Regions from separate parts of the Homo sapiens genome. Here region 1 is linked to region 2. Evidence: fine-mapped expression QTL. A gene starts in region 2. The other region holds a variant in brackets. All regions are shown on one strand. Distances are from middle to middle.

Evidence for each region.
Region 1: its variant is fine-mapped to the expression of CYB5B in sun-exposed skin (GTEx, PIP above 0.99).

Annotation. Positions count from the first base shown.
Region 1 is chr16:69,461,558-69,464,057 of GRCh38, reverse strand. It overlaps CYB5B (cytochrome b5 type B), which reads right to left. Exons shown (of 5, transcript NM_030579.3): 5 at 1-1,628. The coding sequence ends at 1,538. Among named protein-coding and RNA genes, the nearest start is that of CYB5B, 38 kb to the right of the region's middle. The variant TCAAA/A (reference allele first, on the strand shown) is at 1,198.
Region 2 is chr16:69,423,278-69,426,144 of GRCh38, reverse strand. It overlaps CYB5B (cytochrome b5 type B), which reads right to left and starts at 1,526. Exons shown (of 5, transcript NM_030579.3): 1 at 1,288-1,526. The coding sequence starts at 1,461. RefSeq lists enhancers at 1,148-1,695, 1,696-2,243.

The DNA.
Region 1 (2,500 bases), 38 kb before region 2:
ATGGTCCTTCTTGAACCAAGCTGCTCCCTGCTGGATATGACAATGGCTCAGAAGCAGACTAGCAATTCTCAAAGGACAGGGAGAAAAATCACCACAGTTGCTGGCAGAAAACAGCCAGTGTACTATTTATTTCCTCAAGTGCTTCCATGGGGGAAAAAATAAAAGTCTAATATGCCAGAGAAATCATCATTGAACCAATAAGACACAGTAACATAATTCTAGTAACCTACTTCTCAATGAACACACATCTGAGAAAAAAACCGCCAGTATTTTATTCTCATGGAAAAACAGAACAAACCCACAAGTTGGAGTCACGGAGATAAAATACAGATGAAATGGAAAACGGTCTGTTGTCATGAACTCTCACTTTCAAATACCATTTTATATGGAAGTTACTTTACTGCGGGGCAAACAGAAGGCCATGCTGGAGTCTCTTACTTTTGGAAAATGGAGAATCAAAAATTTGCTAATCAACAAACAAAAAAGGAGGGAAACTCCTTGGTAAAGCTCTACAAACATAATTATACATTTATATTTTACCAATAAAAGATAGCTAGGGTAGAAAAAACAGATGGTTAGAAACTGGTGCCAAACCAAAGTGAAAGCTTTGGTGCCTTCTCTAAACTCCTATCCTGTTTCTTTAGAAAACACCAGTTTTCTAAAGAAAGATTACTCTGAATTCACCAGGGTTCTATCACCCCAATTCATCCCTACCTTTCCACCCCCAAGACACGAAAGGGCCATGTAGTTTTTTGTCCGGCACCACTTGGGAAGGGGCTGGGCTCAGGGGCTGGGAAGAGCTACCTGCTGCCCTAGCTTGAAAGGGAGGAGGTGGCCACACCATTCTTTGTATTTTTATCACGCACATAAAAGAACAAAAATCATTTGGCAGTTTTAAGTTTAATAGGTGCAAACCTTTACTTCAGGAATTAAACCCCTTATGATAAATAAAAGAATTAAATCAGATTTTTTTTTAATACAGATAGGGGTCTCGCTATGTTGCCCAGGCTGGTCTTGAACTCTTGGCCTCAAGCGATCTTCCCACCTTGGCCTCCCAAAGTGCCAGGATTACAGGCCTGAGCCACCACACCTAGCCCTAAATCAGAATTTTTTAAAAAAAATTTACTTAAAAGAAAAATGGAAAAATAAAACTTTCAACACTAGACTGCCGCCCTGTTAAGAATGTCTAATATGCAA[TCAAA/A]GTATTGGAAAGCAGGCATTTTTACCAAAGAGCAATGTCACTATAACTTATGAACAGAAAGTTGTGAAATATAAGGGTACTCATGGAAACCAGTGAAGAGAGGAAACACCGGCAATTGTTCAACACGGAACAGTGAGCAGGTACTTTGGGAGTAAGGCTCTGAGAGATGGAAGACGCTGGTCTCAGATCTGAGGTGATGTCTGGCCAATCGTCTTGGCTCCAAGGGGGAAGAATGCAACTGGCAGGATTCGAGGAGAGGGCACTTCTGCAGCCCCCAAGCAAGTCTCTAGTTTTCGCCCCAAAGTGGATGCACTTTCTAACTTCAGCAAGGCCTCCTCAGGAGGATTTGCTTTCCGATGTGTAGTAGCGGTACAGGAAACCTAAGAGAACAGCGCCTATGATGGGTAAAATCCAATATGCCCAGCAACTAGGAATAGGGGGAGAAAGCAATAAAGTTGTTAATATTTTAAGCCAAATGTTCACTATCTTTCAGCTTTCACATGTTTTTATATAGGCAAGGAGTTTTTATTTACTTTGGGAAATTTAACTGCTTTTATCACAAAGTAGTTGGGGAAAAATATTTGAATTGGAGTGACAATATTACAAAGTAATTTTTTAAAAGGTTAAAAACAACCAATAGTATGATATCAAATAAGATGTCTTTAAATGCCTCTATATGTGTTTCTACAAAGTCATATAGTGGTTATTTCTGAGTTAGGGATTATGGATACTCTCACATTTTCTTCATTGTGCTTTTGCTTTTCACGTATTCTACAATTAAACATTTTTAAACAGGAAAAAACACCATTATGTATGTGACATTTCATATATGTATAAAAACATATCCATCCCAATATAAATTTGGAAGTAATCATATCTAATATAACTACCAGAAATATCCTATCTGCTTCATATGTATTTTAAAGATTTAATCCTTATGAAATAGGATAACCTACGAAATAGGGTTATTATTCTCATCTCATACAAGGGAAATATAAGCTTTGCACCCCAAATCCCAAAGCTAGAAAGGCAGCTGGACAGTCTGATTCCAAACCCATCCTCTTAATCCCTAGTTAAGTTTGGACACTAATAAGGATACACATACACACAAAGCATATACAGTTCTAACAGGGTGAAGCAAATGGCAGCTTCAAAAGTACTGCAAGAGACCTTCCTTAGGAGCTTCAGAACAGTCATCATTCTCCTTAACATAATAATTCTTTAATAGAACTTATTAGCACACTAGTTTTAAGGTATAATTCTTCCATGATCCAAATGACCCGGCTGCCCCTCTACTTA
Region 2 (2,867 bases):
TACAGGCGTGAGCCACCGCGCCCGACCGGAAAGCACTTTTAAAAGCATAAAATGCCATACACCATACAAATGCAAGAAGTTAGTAAATTCTGAGTTTGTTAAATTATTGTTCACTATTAAGATTTATTAAAAATAATGTTCTTTGGGGGAAACTTTTAAATTTTAAAAGTTTTTAGAATTAAAAGTCAGGATGCAGAGATTTCTCTTTTAGGCCCCAAATTAATCGAAAAAATATTTCACTAGTATATTTGCTTCAGAGAAATAGAAGTGAACTTTCACAAGTCATTAATCTATTGCTCAAAATAAAATGATCACACACAAACCGAAAATCAAAGCTTCAAACATACACACACCGAAAATCAAAGCTTCAAACCAATCTTTAGCGGCTGCATATCACTAGTTGCCTGGGGTTGGGAGAGAATGACTGCAAAGGGAAAGGAAGCTTTTTAGAATGATGGAAATGGTTTATGTCTTAACATGGATGAATACATTTTTCAAAACTCATCAAAATGTACATTTTAGATAGGCACAATTTACGTATGTACATTACACCTCAATAAAGTTTTAAATATTTAGAAGTCTATCCTGTTTCCTTAAAAAAAAAATTAGTTGCACCATGGTCTCAAAAATAATTTTTAAAATGAGATGTAATGCAACAGACTTGAAGATTAAATAAAACAGTCTTGAATATTTAAGAAAAATGACAAAACATGAGTCAAAAACAAAAAAAAAGGGTTGATTTATGAGTTTCTGGCCTCAAGGTCAACTCAGATTAGGGGGAAAAAAAAACAGTGGAGGCATAATCAAGATGGGGAAGCGTGTGGAGAGAAATCTCAGCTTCTACTCTAGAAGACGAAAACCAAAACCGGTATTACTTCAGAAGGCACACTGGAAAAGCACAGATGTGGGTGCACTTCAGACCTAGGTTCAACGGATCTAAGCTGCTAACTCTATGGCCCTGAGAGTCCTCAACCTGTGAGCCTCAGTTTCCCTTTCTGTAAAATAAAGATAATGATGGCTTAGAGTTTAGCTGAGCACACAGCAAATGCTCGACACATAAGTAATACATGATATTACATAAGGCACCAGAACTCGGAGCTGACTGGAAATGCATGCAAACTAAAGCCCTCCCCCAATCCCACCCCAGTTTCCCTCTGAGGGTCGTGATCCCTTTCTTACGCCTTATCGCCCCCAGCCAAGCCTCCCTTCCTTCCCACATACACTCCACACAGCCTTTTCACCCCTCGCCCCAGCAGCTTCAGAGGCCTCCCACCTCCCAGGCCCCACCTCGTTGAGGAAGCGGGTGACATCGTAGACTCGCCCATGGATCACAAGCCACAGTTCCTTCAAGGAGTTGCGCTTTGCCACCTCCTCCAACCGGTAATAGGTGACTGAGGTCTCGACTTCCTGCCCTTTCCCATCGCTGCCGCTAGCTTCCGCAGTCGCCATTGAACCGGACATACTGCCTCTCCACCGCTAACTGAGATTCCGCGACTACTTTCCTTGAGAGCCCGCGCTCAGCCTTCCTCGGCTTCCGTAACCAGGGCCCATAAGGCCTTGAGACGGTTCCTAGCAACAGCCAATCACACTTCCGAATAGTTCCTGGTTCGTTTTCTTTTCACCAATGAAGGGAGTGGCTCAGTTCGAAATCCCGCCCACTCCTCGCCCGATCCTCCAGATGAAAGTCTGGTTCGAGGTCCAACTAACCAATTAGGGTCGTTCAGCCCCCTCCAACCTCGCCAATCAGATACCGCGATTTTTGGACTGGCGCCCAAAAGAGGCGTGCTGACAGGTGTCACTTCAGGAGAGGTACCACTTCTCTCAGCCTGTGGGCCTTTAGGGTCTCCAGTGTTCTGCTTCCCTTCCCATCGCTGTGGCTTTCTCCTGAGTCTCAGAAAGTTCCTATCCCCTACACTACCGGCGCAGCCTGTATCCCAACCCTGATTTTACATCTTTGCTGCCTCCAGGTCGTGATCTGGCCAATCCCGTCTCTCCTCAATTTCCCCATCAGTAAAATGGGCTTGATAAAGCACTCTCTTACAGAGGGGTTTGCCTTTTTTTTTTTTTTTTTTTTTTTTGAGACAAGTTCTCGCTCTGTCTCCTAGGCCAGAGTGCAGTGGCACGATCTCGGCTTACTGCAAACTCCGCCTCCCAGGTTCAAGCGATTCTCCTACCTCAGCCTCTCGACTAGCTGGAACTACAGGCATGCGCCACCACGCCCGGCTAATTTTTGTATTTTTAGTAGAGAGTAGGTTTCACCATGTTGGCCAGGCTGGTCTCGAACTCCTGACCTCAGGTGATCCGCCTGCGTAGGCCTCCCAAAGTGCTGGGATTACAGGCGTGAGCCACCGCGCCTGGCCCGGTTTGCCTATTTTAATGAGAGTGCCTGTAAAGCGCTTGGCGCATAGTAATCGCTAAACATGGCAGTCGATTAGAAAGGCAATTGCTGTCCCGGACAGCAATTGGGGGTAGAATGTGGAGTATCCTATGTTTCTACCATCATTCAGAATCCGATTTTCAAACGAATTCTGTGATGATCAGGATCAATCGGCACTATTTTAGTCTCTACGTGATCTAAAATAGAATTGAACTCAACTGCTCTCCGCTAGAGGTCCCAGCACTTTGGAATTCCAAGTTTGGTTAAGGTACAGTGTTGTGCGCCACTTTTTAACTGCCATTACAACTGACAGATTGCTCTTCCTATGATGTCGTCGTTTTCATCCTGTCACTCTCGCAGTCTACCATTCAGGGCTCTCCACAATCCATTCGCAACCTCTTTCACTAACGTATAATATTTTCCACCATTCCCTTTATAAGCCTGTTGCACCCGCCCCGACTCTGAAACCTGCTGGTTTAAAACCACATCC